Linked DNA regions of Homo sapiens. The protein of the gene in region 3 interacts with the protein of the main gene of each other region in a pairwise test. Each region holds a gene or a part of one and is shown on either strand. Other genes may lie near its edges.

The links.
Region 1: the proteins of FSBP (region 3) and ATPAF2 interact in binary tests that used the Homo sapiens proteins (3 or more experiments, as listed by UniProt).
Region 2: the proteins of FSBP (region 3) and TCEANC interact in binary tests that used the Homo sapiens proteins (3 or more experiments, as listed by UniProt).

Annotation. Positions count from the first base shown.
Region 1 is NC_000017.11:18,017,512-18,022,190, reverse strand, and holds the end of ATPAF2 (ATP synthase mitochondrial F1 complex assembly factor 2), read left to right. Parts: intron 1-333; coding exon 334-446; intron 447-527; exon of another isoform or gene 528-769; intron 770-952; coding exon 953-1,068; intron 1,069-1,192; coding exon of another isoform or gene 1,193-1,231; exon of another isoform or gene 1,232-1,551; intron 1,552-3,504; coding exon 3,505-3,642; 3' UTR 3,643-4,170; downstream 4,171-4,679. UniProt on the Homo sapiens protein: Plays a role in the assembly of the F1 component of the mitochondrial ATP synthase (ATPase).
Region 2 is NC_000023.11:13,648,582-13,656,149, reverse strand, and holds the start of TCEANC (transcription elongation factor A N-terminal and central domain-containing protein), read right to left. Parts: upstream 3,010-7,568; 5' UTR 2,962-3,009; exon of another isoform or gene 2,711-2,961; intron 862-2,710; 5' UTR 777-861; intron 1-776.
Region 3 is NC_000008.11:94,433,945-94,441,426, forward strand, and holds the start of FSBP (fibrinogen silencer-binding protein), read right to left. Parts: upstream 3,001-7,482; 5' UTR 2,925-3,000; coding exon 2,551-2,924; intron 1-2,550. UniProt on the Homo sapiens protein: Transcriptional repressor that down-regulates the expression of the fibrinogen gamma chain. Represses transcription of GSK3B gene promoter via its interaction with APBA1.

The DNA of each region.
Region 1 (4,679 bases), on a different chromosome or scaffold from region 3:
GAGATGTAAAAGGCAGATGGCCTTTTGATGGAGATTCCAGGTGAATGAATGAGCATTTCAGGCAGCTGCGTATAACCGAGCCCTAGCTCACATGACTCAGGAACCATCCCTTCATTCAGCACAGTTTCTTGGTCCTCCAAGTTTGCTTTTGAGGGACAGAAAATCAGGTCGGGAGGCCACTGACCATGGTGGCAGTTGCTCCTGTAGTCAAGACTAGCTCCTTGGCCAATGCACACACATGCTCTGAAGCTTAGGCCTTTGTTTCTAGTCAAAAGGTGGGCTGCTCTTGGGCTACAGCATGACAGAGACATGCCGAAGCCCTTTTCCTTTCAGATACGGCGTGGAGATCAGCTCCTCCACCAGCATAATGGGACCCAGCATCCCTGCCAAAACTCGGGAGGTGCTCGTCAGCCACCTGGCATCTTACAACACATGGGCTTTACAAGGCATGTATGGAGTTTCTTGTGGGCTTGGCAGGTGGCTGTGAAGGCCATCAGTGTCTGAAGCCTGTACTTGCCCCTCCCCAGGTCCTGTGAGTGGAGAGGCACAGAGTGTTCTGGGCTAGCTGAGTGTGGAGGCTGGGTGGCTCTGATGCTAGCCAATCACTCTACGCTCTAGGCTCACACCTTTCCACCTTCGACTTCGCCAGCAGAAGTCTTGAGTTCAATCTCATTGCCCTGGCTTGGGTCACATGTCCATCCATGAACCAATCACTAGACTGGGTGCGGAAAGCTCTGATTTGCCAAGTTCGGGTCATGTGTCTCACTAGGTAAGAGCAGAGGAGGATCACCCCCAGGGAAGACCAGAGTGCTCTTTCAGAAGAGTGGGACAATCGCTGGATGGCTCTTTGCACCACTCACTCCTGTTCTCTGCTAGGGCTGCTGGGACTCACAAGGGGTAGGTTGTGGCAGCTGCCCTGTTTTGGGTTCTGACTTGGCTTGTGTCCCTGCAGGGATTGAGTTTGTAGCTGCCCAGCTCAAGTCCATGGTGCTAACCTTGGGCCTGATTGACCTGCGCCTGACAGTGGAGCAGGCCGTGCTGCTGTCACGCCTGGAGGAGGAGTACCAGGTGAGGAGCAGCACCTCAGGTCCCGCCTCCCCCTTCCTAGTTCAGACTCACTTTGGGGGAGCAGCTAACCCATCTGAAATATAGTTATGCATACTTGGCTTTTATTACTTTTATGTACACGCAGAAATCAAAATCAAGGACCAGCAGAAGTATTGTCAAGTAGGCCTGGCATGGTGGTTCACACCTGTAATCCCAGCACTTTGGGTGGCTGAGGAGGATGGATCATTTGAGGTCAGGAGTTTGAGACCAGCCTGGGCAACATGGCAAAACCCTCTCTCTACAAAAATACAAAAATTAGCACCTGTAGTCTCAGCTACTTGGGAAGCTGACGTGGGAGGATTGCTTGAACCTGGGAGGTGGAGGTTGTAGTGAGCCAGGATTGTGCCACTGCATTCTAGCCTGGGTGACAGAGTGAGACCCTGTCTCAAAAAAAAAAAAAAAAAAGGTAAGATAATAACAATAAAAAAATAACAGTAAGTGCTACCGCTGTGTTCCTGCATTGTATCCATCTCACCTCCTCTCAGCAGCCTGGGCAGGTAGGAGCTGTGGTTATCTCTGTTTTACACAGAAGGAAATGGAGGTGCAAGGTTGCACCTCTGGAAAATGTGCCAGCTGGGGTTTGAAGCCAGGTCTGGTGATTTTAGGGCCAAGGCCGTCAGGCCTCACTCTGCACAAGGAGGTTCACGGGTGGATAAAGACCATCTGGGCTTGATAAAGCCTGCAGAACAGGCCCTGCCAAGATGACTGAGAACCCGTTTGTGCTCCTTCATCAGCTGAGCCTTCATACCCTGACATTTTATCTGGCTGGCAGAGGAGCATAGGGGTAGCTGCTGTTTGTATACAAGTTTTGATTTAGTGGGCTCAGAATTAAGGTTTTGCCACAGTATGGTTTGCATTTTTTAACTCTGAAAATTATAGCCATCTTTGCAGTCTTTTTATTGTTATTCCACCAACCTCAGAAGGTTAATTGCTATTATGAATTGGTCCCTAATATGGTAAAAACAAACAAACAAAAAAACACAAAACTTTTTGTGATGTATTTCCCTAGTTCTTGTAGTCTTCTGCTCAGAAAAATGCCAGGGAAAAAACTATTTTTGTATAACAAAGGAGGCCCGCTACTATTCTCTGGATGTCAGAACTGATTACATAGGAAGGGGGTGACTTGTAGGGCTGGTGGGAAGCCAGTCTGGGCTCTGCTTCTGACTATGGGACCCAAGCCAGGCCATCATTCTCTGAACTTTGGTTTCGATCCTCTACAAACAGAGGAATAACCTGAATTATGTATGTGATGGTATACAATGAAAGTATGGAATACTCTTCAGATGACATATTACAATTGTACAGTTTGGGACCAGGCAGCCCAGAAGTTCAAATAGCTTGTGTAGCATGGTGGATTCTGAGTTCCTGGATGAGCTGGGGCGGCCAGGCCAGGCCTCTTGGGCAACTAGCCAGGGAGGAGCCAGCAAGGTTTGGTTGGACTTACACTGTCTGGACAGCCACATCGTGTGTCTGAGCGTTCCTCCCTCTTGTTTTTAGAGCTCCAGACAGAGAATCTGCAACTTGTCCCCAGTGTGCAGAGCAGAGGCATCTGTAGTTCTGTGACTACCACAAGAGTCAGAGTTGAAGCCACTGCGTGGCCTTACTTGATTTAGTTATTCCACCCACATGGCGCTGGGGGGCACTTGTAGCCCAGCATGGCAAGGCAACTTGGAGAGGCTGTCCATTCACAGGCTTTCTGGGAGGAAGTGTAGGAGAAGGGATGGCACATAAGGCCTCCTCAAAGAAGTCACATGGGTGGTTCTGGTACCCAGCCTGCCCAGTGGTGGGTGGGCAGCCACTGGCCCTGGGCCTGGGCCTGGACTGCACTTCTTCCAGACCATCCATGCCACAGAGAGCACAGGTGCCTGCTCCGGCTCCCTGGGGGTGGGGTGGTGGGGTGTGTGTGTGTGTGTGTGTGTGTGTGTGTGTGTGTGTGGTGTTTTTGAGACAGGGTCTTGCTCTGTTGCCCAAGTGGGAGTGCAGCGGTGTGATCTTGGCTTACTGCAGCTTCAGCCTCCTGGGCTCAAAGCAGTCCTCCTACCTCAGTCTCTCAAATAGCTGGGACTACAGGTGCACCCCCACCACACCCAGCTAATTTTTAAACCTTTTTGTAGAGGCGAGGTTGCACCATATTTGCCCAGGCTGGTCTTGAACTCCTGGATTCAAGCAGTCTTCCTGCCTCGGTCTCCCAGAGTGCTGGGATTACAGGCGTGAGCCACCGTGTCTGGCGTACCTGGGTGTTCTTACCTGCCACCTCCCCCTAGGCATGTCTCATGTGTTTTGGCAAGATACAAACCTGTTGCCCTCAGCCAACCTATTGGAATGGAACGTGGCTTTGGTCAGGAGGCAGCCAGGCACTGGCCACTCACCCAGCAACTTGTCTTGTCCTTCCCTCAGATCCAGAAGTGGGGCAACATTGAGTGGGCCCATGACTATGAGCTGCAGGAGCTGCGGGCCCGCACCGCCGCCGGCACCCTCTTCATCCATCTCTGCTCCGAGAGCACCACAGTCAAGCACAAGCTCCTGAAGGAGTGAGGCCTGGGCAGAGCACACTCAGCAGGATAGAGGCAGTGCAGCCACAGCTCCCCCGGCCTTCAGGGCTCCCCAGCCTGTGGGGCTGGCTTCCTTGGCTTTTGGGGACTCGGCCTCAGCGTCACCCTGAGATTCCCCCCGAGACACAGTGCGCTAGTACGGCTGTCCGGAGGTCAGCCTGATTTCAACCCAGGTGCCCCTGGCCTGGCCAGCAGTGAATGTAGGAGATGAATTGTGCAAGTGACTTTCTCTCGACTCTGATTTTATTAAATATTTCTCCACCCTGGAAATGTGCTGAGCCCTGTTTTCACGTATGCCTCTGCACTTCTCCATTCTTCCTGTTTTGTCTAGGTTCCAGAGGGTTAAACAGCTTATCTCCCATGGCGTGTTTGGATATCTGCTGCCTGTGGTCAGGAACCTTGCACTGGGGAAACAATCATGTAATCCACAGACAACTCTATTTGTGTTCTTCAGCCTCAGCCTGAAGGCTTTTTTTTGGCTGGCTTTTAATCAAACAATCTTTTGAAACAATTGTGGTCTAAGCTGGTTGTTTCTATTTGTTCCTACTGTTCTAAAACAAATGATTTACTCTAGAAAGTAGAAAATAGAAGTTGTTTCTGGGCTAAAAGCCTGGACAGGCTTGACAAGGTCACCTGATGTGCATGTTTCCGCTCATCTCCCACCCAGGAGTCCTAAGGGTCCTCCTGACATAGCCACCTCTAGTGTCCCAGGAGGCAGGCGCTACTTTCTGGTGTCAGGCCAGTAAGAGGGCAGGGGGGAAGAGTGGTTCTCAGGCAGACAGGCTCTCTCAGCCCTGTGTCCTTGCCAGCCTGAGTAAGGTAATGGCATCAACCCTGCTCACAGGGCACTGATCGCATGCTGGGTGCCTCTCCACGCTTCCCATGCACTGTCTCCCTGAACTGTTCCTCGAAGGCACTGTGAGGTACTGTCACAGATGACACCAGGGCTGCGGGGGTGACATGGTGGAGCTGGGATGCCCTGCCTGCACTCTGCTCTTCTGGAGGGTCCTCAGGTCCTTG
Region 2 (7,568 bases), on a different chromosome or scaffold from region 3:
CACCAAACCCTATCTGGGCTCGCCATCATCTGGACAGCTACAATTTGCTTCTTTACTGCCTTCACTGTACTTCTGGCACTCACAAGGCCCAACTGTGAGTCTGGCACTTTGTTAGAGGGATCATCCTCTAGTACAGATCTCAGAAAGATACTCCCTCATTTTCCTGCTGAAAGCCCTTGAGAGGTTTCCCCTTGCTTTCATGATGGAGCCAAAGCTCCTTGGCCAGTGGCAAAAAGAGCCCTAGCAGGCCTCCCTCTTGACTACTCGCAACCACTGATGGGCACGGCTCTGTGCCTTTGCTCAAGCAGCATCCCGAGCCTGGCTGATCTCTCACCATTAGTGGTTCTCAAGCCTGGCTGCACATTAGAATCCTCTGGGGAAATTAAACAACAAAAAACAAAAACAAACAATGGCAGGGCCTCACTCCAGATAGGATGAATTAGGATCTCTGAGGGTAGGGCCTGCATATTGGCTCAGCTCTCCAGGGTGACTCTGATTTAAACCACACACAGGCATACAACCCTCTTCCACACCCCAGCAGGACCTGCCAGTTAGGCTGCCATCAGCCCCAAAGACAGCTCTGGTTCTGCTCCTGGACCGAATGCAGACAACTCTATGACTGGCTTTTCTAGATGAGTCCCATTCAGTCAGAAAAGATTTAAAACACCTACTGTGTACAATGCAGCTGACAACCTTCTCTACAAATTACAAATGACAACTGTAATATTTTAAGTGTCATAATGTACACAATTCCTGATATTCACCCTCTCACTTACCTCTTCACAGTGGAAGGCAACATATATTTATTGAGCAACTCTCCAGGCCACACACACTCCAGTCATCTCAATCCTCACAATACTCCTGCAATACAGATAATGGCTTATTTTCATCTTACAGGTGAGGAAACCTGCTAAAAACAGTAAATAATTTGCAAGTTTTTTTCATGGTGTTAATCACATTTAAAAAACGTTTTTACTGCCTTCCCCACAAGACCATAAGAGAAGATCCACATGTTTTATTCACCTATACACACCTAGCAAACACCCAGTCAGTGCTTACTATTACTTAACACATTTTTGTTGTTGTTAAATGAGTAATGAGCATCCAGGATGCTCTCTCTCTTCTCTGCTTGGGAGCTTCATTTCTTTTCACTACACACCAGCTTGCTTGTACTCATTGCACCTAAGCCCAGTGCCCCTTGGCTTCTTTCGTAGGAGACCAAGCCCATCTCGATTCTAGTTCAAAAAAATCATTCAAAAATTCTAGTTCAAATAAATCTTGTTAAAAAAAACAAAACAAACAAACAAACAAACAAAAAAACCATGGTGCCCACTGTGGGCTAATGAAGTGGGTTTGAGGGGTCAAAACATTTGCATAAGGAAGGTCAAGCAGGTCCAGTTCCCAGAAGTGAGGGGTGCTGAGCAAGTTGGATAAGTTTCTTGACCATTCTGTGCCTCAATTTCCTCATCTACAAAATGGGAGAAATCCAACATCCTAGGATTAATGAGAATTAAATGAAAGTCTTGATAAAGTGCTTTGAACTATGGCTGTCACACAGTAAGTGTGAATAATAGGATGTGAATCTACAATTAAAAGGCTTAAAAATATCTACCAAACCAGGCATTGTTCTACAGCAGGGGGTCAGCACACTTTTTCTGTTAAAGATCAGAAGGTATATATTCTAGGCTTTGTAGGCCATACAATCTCTATGGACTACTCAACTCTGCTGCTATTGTAGCAGCAACAGCAGATACAGAAAATAACATAAATGGATAGGCATGATCTTGCTCTGGTAACACTTGTTTACAAAAACAGGCAGGCTGGATTTGGCTGCAGGCCATAGTTTGTTGACCCTTTTCTAGAGCAGGGCTGTGCAACATATATATAACATGTAAACCACAAATATGATTTAAAATTTTCCAGTAGTCATGTTAAAAAATAAAAATTGGTGAAATTAATTATACATTTTATTTAACCCAGTGTATCCAGAATAGTCATTTCAACATGTGATTAATATAAACAAATTGAGATATTTTACATTCTTTTTCATGCTAATTCTCGAAAATTCACTGTGTCTTACACTTACAGCACATCTCAATTCGGACTAGCCACATTTCAAGTGATCAAGCCTTATGTAACTAATGGCTATCATTATTGGGACGCCACGGTTCTAGAACTGATGCTAATATGGATAATGCTTGCTTAGGTGCATACCTATACCAAAAAGTGTATACAGTGCCAGGAAAAGTAGGCACGAAATATGGTATTGGATCCATATAAAAACTTATAAAGATTAGCTAATATTATAGTAAGCAAGGTGCACACATCTGCACAAAAATGGCCTAAACCCTGAGAAGAACGAGAGGAAAGGTCTGGAAACAATGTTTCCAGAAGTTTGTAACAAGTCAAAAATAACCTAGATCTGTTCAGATCTTTAGATCTCTTTAAAGCCTAAAGAGAAACTGTAACTTTCTAGCCCTAACCCACTTAACAGCTCCCCAGCTTCACAGGGAGCCCCGCCCTCTATGGAGAGAAACGATGCCAAATGTTGGCAGCGGTGTAGCGGTTACTGAACAGCCACTCAGCACTGCACTAGGACCATTTCCCTTAATGGTGACCCCTAGTAAAGGTGCAGCGAGAGGAAGGGACCAGCCCAACTGCCCGGTCTAGCCCGGGTTCGAGTTCCGGTGGGTGGGGTCGAGCAACATGCAAAGCCTGCCGCTAATCATCTTGGGATGACGGCCCGGCACCCAGCACACAAACAGCGACAGTCCCGAGGGTTCAGCCCACTCTGGCGACCTCGACAGTCGGAGAGGAAGGGGCGGGGGTGCGAGCACCTTCGGATCTACGCCGCCCAGGGCGCACCGGAAAGCTGCCGCGAGCCGGGGTGGGCTTCCGCTGGGAATAAGGGCTCGCCTTTTTGCGGGACACAGGCCCTGGCAAACCTGAAGCATGACTCACCGAAAAGCGCAGGCGCAGTTCCGGAGCCTTCAGCCGCCCAGTGCCCACGGAGAACTTCCGATCACCGGGACTGGGACAACGTCAAGGCTCAGCCAATCCAAGCCCACAGGCCGGCGCACGTGGTCCTGGGACCCAGTGCATGCGCGCTAGGGAAATGGCTGCCGTGGGACTGCGCTCGCGCGGCTTCCTAGAGGAGGAGCCATGGCCCCGCCCCGGGCCCGAGAGAAAGAAACTGCACTTTCGTTTTTTAGCAGCAAAGTTTGTTGATGTACTTTACAACTTATCTTTTCTGCTTCTACTCAGGACAGTCAAGACAGTGCTCAGCTAGATGTTCACATAACTGTAGACATAAATGTGAATCTATTTAACGCAGTAATTAATTCAAAAAGTGTTTTTAGCATCCTAGCATGCATCAGTTGATATGAAAGTAGTAAATGTTAATTGAGTGGTCTTGTGCATCCTGGACTTCTCATCTGTGCATATTCTCATTCTTTGCCTGCAAAGGGCCAGTAAAAGCACAGTGATGGTTGAACGAATGTGACAGCCTCCTTTGCTGATGCCTTACCCCAAGGTAATTTGGGGAAAGGTTCAGGGAAACAGAGTATCCAATCCAATACTCTGGACTGGGTGCTGGCAGGAAGGAGGGCGATTGTATGATTAAGTATCATAATAAATCTTACCTAAAAGGAGGGGAGACAAGACCAGTGACTCATTAACTGGGATAGGGGATGTTTGGTCATTTTTGTGGTTTGGACAATGTTTACGTTTTTTCAGCATTCCCACGTGATTACGAAGGAGTCTTGTTTTTGTCTTGATCCATCTGGTCAAAGAGTGGCCACGTCTGATGGTGTTCTGTGAAGTATTTATGTTCCACGCAGCACCAAGGCCCAGCTGTGACTGCCGGGGCAGCTCAGAGCTGTCAGGGGTTACTTTTTTCTTGCTGTCTATTATAGGGCTAAAATGTTTAAGGATTATATAATACCTTTTTAAAGAAAAAATTATTTGGCTGGGCGTGGTGGCTCATGCCTGTAATCCCAGCACTTTGGGAGGTCGAGGCAGGCGGATCATGAGGTCAGGAGATCGAGACCATCCTGGCTAACACGGTGAAACCCCGTCTCTACTAAAAATACAAAAAATTAGCCAGGCGTGGTGGCACGTGCTTGTAATCCCAGCTACTTGGGAGGCTGAGGCAGGAGAATCGCTTGAACCCGGGAGGCGGAGGTTGCAGTGAGCTGAGATCGAGCCATTGCACTCCAGCCTAGCGACAGAGCAAGACTTGGTCTCAAAAAAAAAAAATTATTTAATGACACTTGTCACTTGTTAAAGCATGGTAAGGAAGACTTTATTCAGGACCATTGAGATAGACATAGGTACCACTGCAACAGGGTCTTGCAGTGGGGAAGAGAGATTGGGCTCAACTTCAATTGTAGCATGGAAAAGTGAGAATTTATAGCCAAGGAGCAAGGTAGGGGGGTCAGTGGATGGAAAATTATTAAGAGGAAACATCAGGGGTAAGGGGGATTCTGTCTAAACCAACCTGACAAGATTCTTGCTGAAGACGGGCCAGGGTGATCAGATGTCACCTGGAGGTTGGTGGAGGATGAGGAACCAAATCAGATATTAAGGGTGATCAGATATTGAGGGTGGTTGCTTTTGGCTAAACTGATTTATCAAGGCTTTTTGCTAAAACTGGATTTTACAAGGAAGTGCACAGATAGGCCTAGTCAGGAGACTGACTAAAGTTTGGTTGGAAAAGAATGCTTGATAATCTTTACTTTTGCCTGTTAAAATAAAAAAAAATTGACGTAATTTAAATTTGGCAGAGTTTATGTGAGCAAAGAATGATTCATGAATCGGACAGCACTCAGAATCAGAATAGGTTCAGAGAGCTTTGTGGGCCGTGAGTATTTATAGACAGAGAATGGAAGTAAAATACAGAAATAGGCTGATTGGTTGCAATCAATGATCAGATCATTTGGATATGATCTGAGAAGTTGGCAGCTTGTGATTGGCTGAAGCTTGTCTGCTTGTGTTTGGCTGAGACTTGGCTGTTTATTATACTCTTCCTTAGGTTAAGCTTTCAGTGTATTTATGTACTAAGTTAAATTGCAATTCATTGTGTAGAAAATCAAAGTACAGAGACAGCCTTGAGCCAATAGCCTCCTGCTTATTTAATTTAACATGCTTTAATGGTATTTCTCTTCTCATTGTTACTTTTTTGGTTCATTTTATGAGTACTCTTGCCCCACTTTGTAAACACTGATTTAAAAATCCGAAGGACTATTGGCTCCTAGACCAACCATCTCTAGTTTTAGACAGTTACCTAGGAAAAATACTTTCTTTGTGATCAGATTTGTAACATGCAATTCTTAAAATATCTGATATTTGTCAAAACAATGGCACTCAAACTATGAAAGGCTCAATCTGAAGGAGTCAGTTTGGAAACTAGAAGTTACTACAGAAGTGGTCATTAGAGCTTTGAGGCATATTATAATCAATTTCTCATGAACTCTATGCTGAAGAAAAAAACAGAAATTACTCAAAAGTCTAAAATCAAAAACAACCTAGTGTTTTCTCTGGTGTGAAGGATAAGACCATTATTTCAACTAAGAGGCAAGCTATAATTACTGCGTAGTCCTGCCTTGTCTACTACAGTAGCCACATGTGGCTATTCAGATAAAATTTAAACTTCAGTTCCTCAGTTGCACTAGCTAAATGTCAAGTTCTCAATAGCCACCTGTGGCTAGTGGGTACCATATTGGATAGCACAGATATAGAACATGCTCATTGCTGTAGAAATTTCTGGCTGAGTTCATCTGGAATGAATCTAGGGCTGCCAGTGGATTCTAAAGAGGTTGCTGAAAAGTTTGTTCTTTTGGGCAATTTAAAAATGGAATACCTATAAAAGTACTCACATCTATGATAATTTATCATGCATAGTTTTCAGGCCTTTGTTTTAAAATCATCTTTCAGCTGCTTCAATACTCTGGAATTCTCTTTGATAAATTTCCCTTAGTGCAGCGGAAACCTCTTTTCAATCCTTATTAAGTCTCTGAGTGGCAATATATTAATAGATATTCTGAGCTCATGCAGACAGCCCTTTCCTGCAAATTCCCACGGAAGAGAGACAAAATCTTATGGGCCTTCTCCAGAGGCTAATGTTACACATTGCTGAGGGAACAGTTACAGATGTTTTCCATGGAATGAGGTCATAGAAACTGCCTCTTTCTGGGTTCTGAGGTGCCGGCCGGTGTTCATTTCCTGATAAAACACCAGGACCAGACACTGGGCTTAACTGGGGATGTTCTTATAAGTCACAGTACATAAGGCATGGGATTAAAACGATGAAGAGTTCCCTTGAAATCTCAGGAGTTACAGAATATTAGGAAATAGAACAAAAAGTCATACATTATAGAAACAGAAACTTTATGTTTAAGTTCTGCAACATATTTCTCAGACTTATGCAGGTGAAATGACAGAGAAGCAGCGAACATGGTATCTCCAGTGAACATCCCCAGAGGCTTCCAGAAGAGCTAGTTCAACGGGTCAGGCAGTCCCTGGCTGGTGGGCCACAGATTGCTTAAACCAACCTAATACCTCTTTTGTTCTTTGGAGGGGCCCACTTTGGAGATTTTTTGGAGGACCCTCCCTTTGCTGGTAGCCCCTTATTACCCATTCCATGGTTCAGATGCTGCACCCTCTGGTTAACCGCTGGCTCCTGCTTTTGGTAGCACATCCCACACAAACTTTTTCTGTCGGGTTACCTCACCTGCAGGCCTGTTGGTCAGGGTCCTTCCAAGACAGCCTAGGCCCAGCTGCTTGCTTGATGTGCACTTAGCCCATGGGAACAACCCAGCGGCCCTGCTCCCCGCCCAGCCCTGGAAGCAGGGCTGTTCCCTCTGCAGCCCTTCTCGTCATCTTCACAGTTGGTCTTAGGTAGCTCTAGCTGGCTTCTCGCCTATTTATTGTTTTTTTTTTTTTTTTTTTTTTTTTTTTGGAGAGTCAGACACCATTCTACAACAGGGGCACCTGTCAATCTCTCTGAGTGGTTCTCTCAAAGTCACCCTCACTTGCCTTGGAGTGGGGGTGGGAAGGAAGCTTCCAGAACTGTAACAACCCTCTTTCACTGTTGCCTTCTCCTGTACATAAGCTGAAGAGTGGCAAACGGGCATGGGTGACAGGAGTTTTTGGCTCATCATTTAGTAAGCCCTGGGTAAATGGTCTAACATCTCTCATTAGAACCAGCAGACACTTAACATTGTGCTCTCACCTTTGGGGCCTTGGACAAAACTCTGAGTCAGGAAATATCCCATTTAACACCTTCTTGTACCTGTAGTAATCTCCAGATCAGTTCCATACCTCTTATTCTCCTTTTCTATACCATTTGTCCATTTTGCTAATTTCTCTAGAAGGTATGTTATTCTACCATAGATTTATGGCAACATTTAGTGGAGGAATGATGAAGGACCAGAAAGTCTGGCTTCAGTCACCTCTTGGTTGATATGGTTTGGCTGTGTCCCCACCCAAATCTCATCTTGAATTGTAGTTCCTATAATGCCTATGTGTTGTGGGAGGGACCTGGTGGGAGGTAATTGATTCATGGGAGC
Region 3 (7,482 bases):
CCAGAAATATCAGATATTTATCTAAGAGACAAAATGAAACATATATAGTATATAATAAAAAATCTATTTGTAGGTTATATAAATTCATTTTTGTTCTTGTCTCTGTTTGTGTCATTTTATTATTTCCAAAAACAAAACAATTAATTATAAATGTAATTCAAAGTAGCAAGCTCTGCTTCTATTAATAGCTCTGCTAAAACCTGGAATGGGAAAAGGCTAAAATTGCATATGAAAATTAAGTTTTTAAAACCACATAATTACTATTTCAAATTAGTATGTAAAATAGAGAGTATAAACATAGACATAATACTACCAAGTAAATTAAAAATATGCCTCATATCTGGAACATTCCTTTCCATTTTAGCTAAAACATTACAACTAAGGCATAACAATATAAAAAGGGAGAAAAAAAGCTTTAGAGCAGGTCACAAAAATGACAGAGAAGGACTTGAGAATCAGAACTTTGAAGATCAGTTTACAAAAACACAAAATATAAACTGATATTAGGAAGAGGTAAAAATAAAGACATAAGTCAATGTGAGTTACAGAAAATAAATAGCCTTACAAAACAGGTATATATTTTTAAGTATGTTAACGCAAACACTAGTATTTTCCTTATTAAAAAGGAAGAGTTTGGTAAGATTAACAGGCATATTTATGTAGAAGTATAGTTAAGATTATAGAATAATTATAAACTTCTGAGATTATTAAGATTCAAGGATGATATCAATCAAATAAATATAAGCACATTAAATATATATATTAAAGAAATAAGCTAATACAGAGAAAATGTCAATGTAGACACAGTAACATAAGAATTTAAAAGGCATGTTTCTTATATTCTTCCCTTTAAAACCTAACAAATTGGTATTATTTAAGCCATAGGTATAGAAATGTACAAATCAACTCATTTTTATCAGAGAAATGTTCATATCCCAAAAGATTTTTTGTGTGTGAATATTGTAAATATTCACACACACAAATAGTCAAAATGTAACCAGATACTTGTATATTTATATATTATTTTTCTTCTACTCACTGTTATTTTTAAAATATGCAACTAACTAAAATTACAGTTTCTACATGTCGTTTTCAAATTATAAAAACCTATACCTACTAACCAAAGGGTACAGTTTTATACCTGCGATGCAAAAAACACTTTTCTCCATGGTTCAAGGGAGAGAAAATTCTGCATAAGTAGCACAGTATAAAACAATTTTACTGCGTAGTTTTCTGGATATCTAGCTATTGGGATTTCATCATTTGTCATCACAGTGAACATTTTAACCAGTGGCCCCAAGAATTAATCCACTGTGTATTCATGTCCTGGATTCCCACTGGTGATATTTTTTTTACTGTGCTATCAAGTAGAAATAAGCAGTATCTGGTAAGAAGCTAGGCTCAAAAATACTTTCCTAGTAAATTACCAAAATAACATATGCACTTGGCTACAAAGTGGTTTTTTTCTGCTTCTCTCCTAATTTCAAAGGGATTTCATAGTAATCAATAATTTGCTTATATAATGCCTCTTCCACCAATAGAAAAGCACATTGTGTAAAGCTTTGTTTGAAAGGCTCCTCAAACTAACAAGGAGTTTACAATTTGTTTAAATTACCCTAAATGGTTCAGAATAAGAATGTAGCTGCCATTTTTATATTTTGCCAGAGGTTACAATCTGAATTAGTGGCAAGATAATACTTTTGAAAATTCCAAGGCAAATAGTTACATAGAAGACAAGTTTAACCAAAAAATTGCTTCTAACTCTAAAAAAACCCAGTTGCTCTTAGGGGTATTTTAAAATTCATAATTTGATATCCTTGCAAAGCAGTAAGAGAAAGCTTACTCTTTCCTATACGACCCAAGATCAAAGTGAAACTAGACTATTAAGGAATAAAAACAACAACAACAAAAAACTTTTAATTTTATTAAGTAAACTGAATCCCTAATTAGGCATTAACTCCCTTTAGTTGTGTTCATCTTTATTTTAAACGTGTTAGAAAAATAATTTAAACTGTCTTCATATACACAATCATGCCATTAACAAGTTTACTTATTGATTTTGTTTATATTTGTTAGTTAACATATATTCAATAAGTGTAGACAATGACAATTCATAAAAAAGCAAGGTTCCATTTCTCTAGAAACTGCTAACTTTATATAAATTTTATATAAAATTGAAAATTCCAGTGAAATGTAATCTTAAATGAGAAAAAAAGTATCTCTCAGAAGCAAACTAAATAATTTAATTTTAAAGCTTAAGAAGTTTATGAAGTGATGTCACAAATTTCAACCCACTTATTCCTCCCTAACCTTTACTTTTAGAAACTACAGGAGGGAAGGGGGAGGGGAAGACAGTAAAAAGTAGCTTAAATGCAACAGAAAAATTCCTCATAGCCTCACTTTTCTCTTTTTAAAAAATGCAAAACAAAGACACTATTCATTGCTCCCGTTGTGGGGATGCTTACTATGCATATCTCTATCACGACTAAGCCAAAGCCCAATAGATAGGAGGCGCCATAATTTTCCATAACAAAACAAAATAAAGCTTACCTTTGTATGTGGTTCCTGTCTCTTACCAGGCAAAAACTGGAAATCTGGGGAATCATCTCCATAACTTTCTTGGTTGGCTCAGAAATATTGCTTTTAAAATCTGATTGGGTCTCTTTTTGCTGCAATAGCTCCTGTTTGGCATATTCTTTGAGCCTTTTATAAAGGGTGCGTAGGCCCTGTGCTGTTCGAGGAGGGCGGTCTACTCCAATTGCATTATAGTTAACTGCTATGATATCCCAACATCTATTCTTTTCTACTATTACTGAATGTTTATTAGTGTGTTCTTCGAGAATTTTCACATATGGCTTCACAAGCTTTAGCAAATCAAGCTTTTCGGATAAGGTAAAATTGGAAGATCTAGCCTTTCCTACCATTGTTCTTTTCAAATTAAGTAGGCAGTTTCTGAAACCACCATGCAGCCTTCAGCTCTGCTCAGCTCTTTTCACAAACAGAAAAAGATCAGGCTTAACTAGGCTAGCCTCATTTAGGCCCACGCCTACAGGGGAGGGTTTATTAAAATTCCTCCAGCTTAAGCTGACGCAGGTTCAGGAAATCTGCTTAAGCCAAGCCTGACCTACATAAAGCTTCTCACTGAAGAAGACAGGAAGGCACAAGCAAAACACACTTGTGTATAAAGGGAACAGCTCGAGACAGGATTTAATACACAAAGGTCTAGAGATAAGCATGGAACACAGCTAAAAATTAGCTAATTTAGTGAGAATATCAAATTTCACACATGTATGCCTAGCTGACAGACTGAACTGCATTGCAGTATCACTTTAATAAAAACAAAAGAGGAACTGTTTTGTGCTATTTATTTACAAATCCAGTAGACAGAAAACTAAAAGATATGAGTAGTGAATGTAGTAATTCCTAACAGAGCCTCTCATCACTGTTTCTGAGCTGAGTGTTCTCCCTTACAAAATCTGCATAATGCTGGATCTGCTGTCAATCAGGAATTGCATATCCTCTAGCTAGTTAGGTTACACCCAGACCCAGACTCCACAGTAAAGCTAAGCTTCTCCTTCATTTTACAGTCTACATTAGCCTCTGCATATTTTTTTCACTTAAGAAAAAATTTTTATAGAACACTCAATCTAAAAAGCAGGTAAAAATCATGTTTTTAAAGCAATGGATTATTCTAGCCGTAATGTATGTGAATTTGCTAGCCTGCCTTATCATGTGTAAAAAATCACTGTTCATGGTGAGAAACAGTATAATCACGCCTTAAGACTCCACATACAAAATCACATTTGCTATTATAATAGAGCCAGATTTTTTATTTAGCTATATTCACACAGTTTGGACTATGAAAGGAAACAGCTAGTCTAGCCATTTTCAAGGCCACCAGTTTCGGTGCTTAGAATATATTTGTTAACCCCAGTATGAAAATATATGATACATAATAATGTAAGCAAGACAAACCTATTTTCTCACAATATACATATTTTTCCAGATAGGGGAATAAATTAGAACATACTTGAACATAGTTCTATCCAATAAAACTATTACTGAACAACTGTGATAGTTATTAAGAGGTAGGAAAAATAAATTGTTTTTAATTACTGACCACGTATATAAATGCTCCCAGGCACTGTGCAAGACCCAATGAAATCAAAAATGAATCTAGATACAGCACCTATCCAGGGAACTGTAGTTCCACAGAAATGCTATAAATTCTCAATTATCTTGTTTTTCATTCTTTTAACAATGGAGAAGCAAATTACATTTACTGAGCTCTCACTGTGAGCCAATGTGTTAAAAGCTTTAAGTGTATTATCTTTCAGAAAACAGTGAAAGATTGCTGGATGTTCTACGGAATGCTAGATGTTGTCTGGTATACGCTACTGAGTAATTTGATTCCATAATAGTTCTACCCTTTCATTGTCTTTGAGCAGTTTCACAGCTCTGTAAATTGTAGAAATCAGTAATGCAAATGATTCTTGTCCATAGAGATGCAAAAAGAAAATCGACCTGCCCCAACAACAACTGGACCACAGGTACTCAAAATCATTCTAGCATTTTCTGAGCTTTTGGAACATTAAAAGAGAACCAAAGAAAGAACATAGGGTATATACTTTATTTAGATAATTATTTTGTTATTTTCAGAAGAAATACAGGTATTACAGAACACAGGGTATATACTTTAGATAATTATTTTGTTATTTTCAGAAGAAATACAGGTATTATGTTAAGAATGAAACACTACTAAAATATGAAAAAATGTTCAATCTCACTAGTTATCAGGGAAATGTATACTAAAAATGATTTTCATTCCTAGATTAGCAAAATTTTTTAAGACTTAAAATGCCAAGAGTGAGGCCAGGCTCAGTGGCACATGGGCCTGTAATCCAACAGTTTTGAGAGGCCAAGGATTACTTGAGCACATGAGTTCAAGACCAGACCGGGCAACATGGAGAAACCCCATGTCTACAAAAAATACAAAAATTAGCCAGGTGTGGTGGCATATGCCTGTAGTTCCAGCTATTCGGGAACCTGAGGTGGAAGGATCACTTGAGCTCAAGAGGTTGAGGCTGCACTAAGCCATAATCATGCCACTGCACTCCAGCCTCGGTGACAGAGCGAGACCCTGCCTCAAAAAAAGAAAAAAAAGAAGACTCCAAGAGTGGAAAAGGATAGAAGGGAAAGAGTACTCTTCTGTACCACTGAAGGGAGTGTAAAATGACATTTTGGATGGTGATCTGGAAGTATCTACTAATATTTTACATGAGTAGGAAATCTTCTAAAATTGTGGTAATTTTATGTCTCAGAATATACCTTAGAAAAATAAAATGCACACGGGAGCAACGAAGCATTCTTTGCAGTTGCATACAGTGGAAGCAATCTAAAAGCACATCAGTTGGAGTTAAAAGCATACAATACATCCATATCATGGTCTACTCCAGGCAGCATTAAAATGAAAGACGCAGATCATAGTGTGTTTGAATATATCACGCTGTTAACGAAAAGAGTCAAACTCTGTATAAAATATTTTTAGAGATTGATTCTGAGCCAAATATGAGTGACCATGGCCAAAGACACAGCCCTCAGGTGGCCCTAAGAACATGTGCCAAGGTGGGTGGCGTATGGCTTACTTTTATATATTTTAGGGAGGCATGAGACATCAACCAAATATATTTAAGAAATACATTGGTTTAGTTCAGAAAAGCGGGACAACTCAAGGCGGGGGCGGGGTGGCGGCGGGGGCGGTGTTCCAGGCTATAAACGTTTTCTGGTTTACAATTGGTTGAGTTTATCTGAAGACCTGGGATCAATAGAAAGGAAATGTATGTTCAGGTAAAGATAAAGGATTGTAGGCACCAAGTTTTATTGTGCAGAGGAAGCTCTCAGATAGCAGACTTCAGAGAGAACAGGTTGTATATTGTTTATTATCAGACCTAAAAGAGTGCCTGGCTCTTACTTGATTATCTCCTGGATCTAGAAAGGAAGGAAGGAAAACAAGGGGAAAGTGGATTCTCTATAGAATGTGGATTTTTCCCACAAGGGATGGCTTTGCACGACCATTTCAAGATATGGCAGAGAAACATGTTTTGGGGTAAAATATTTTTATTTTCTTCCATGTTATGCCAGAGTCAGATCGGAAAGTAAGTCATGATATACAGGGTTAAATAAAACCATCTGATGAGAATGTATGGTTTACAGAGCATGATTCCCCAGACCCCTTAGATAGGAATTTAGGCAAGATTAAAAAAAAAAAAATCAGAGCTTAGTCCTCAATGCAGACAGCACAAATTAGTGATAACCTATGTAAATTGTAATTGATGATTAATCTGAAATATTTATTACTGTTTGATTATATTACAATAAAATTATCTTTCTAGTTTAAAAATAGAATGGACAAGTTTTTAAATTAAAAGAAGCTATACTACTGATGCAGAATTAAGTGGAAAATACTATGCAGGACTTTCTAAAGCAGACTATGAAAAGGTATCATGGATATACTTGTTAAGAATATTACGAATATATGTGTAAATGCTATGAATCACTGCCAGTTTATGGAACTGGTAAAAGACATCGAATAATTTTTTGTTCTTTGCCAATGCTCGTTGGTGTAGTCATAGAGTTTTATGAAGAATCACTGTGCTGTCTGAGAGTGAAAAACTCAAACTGTTTTTCCTCTGCTCTCACACCACAACAATCAACATGAAGACTTGTGTGACCAAATGTGTGGGAGTTTCTCCCCACACACCAAGCAAGAAGTTAAGTTCTGCAGTGGAGAGGAGCCGGGTATCCTCTAATTCAACTTTCCAACACTATCAGGAGATAGTGTTAGATCTCAAAGGTTAAGAGCTCAGTACCACAAACCCCATGGCCCCACCTGAGGGAAGAGAGAGACCCTCTCATATTGTTTTATATTGTTTTATACTCAGTACCTGTTTTAAGAAAAAAACAAGGAAGTGAAATCAAAGACAGGCAGCCCGGCGCCAGGTCCAAAACCAGGCCTGGGCCTGCCTGGCCTAAACCTAGTAGTTAAAAATTAACTCATGACTTAGAACCCGATGTTACCCATAGATTCCAGGCATTGTATGGAAGAACACTGTGAAACTCCCTGCTCTTTTCTGTTTCACTCTGACCACCGGTGCATGCAGCCCCTGTCACGTACTCCCTGCTTGCTCAAATCAATCACGACCCTTTCATGTGAAATCTTTAGTGTTGTGAGCCCTTAAAAGGAACAGAAATTGTGCACTCAGGGAGCTCAGATTTTAAGACAGTAGCTTGCCGATGCTCCCAGCTGAATAAAGCCCTTCCTTCTACAACTCGGTGTCTGAGAGGTTTTGTCTGTGGCTCGTCCTGCTACACAACCAGTCACAAGTCTGGGCCTCCAGAACATCTAACCAAAAAGCTTCAAGTTGGGGTTCCCACAATCCCCTCTGGGTTCTATTAGTTTGCTAGAGTGGTCACAGAACTCCA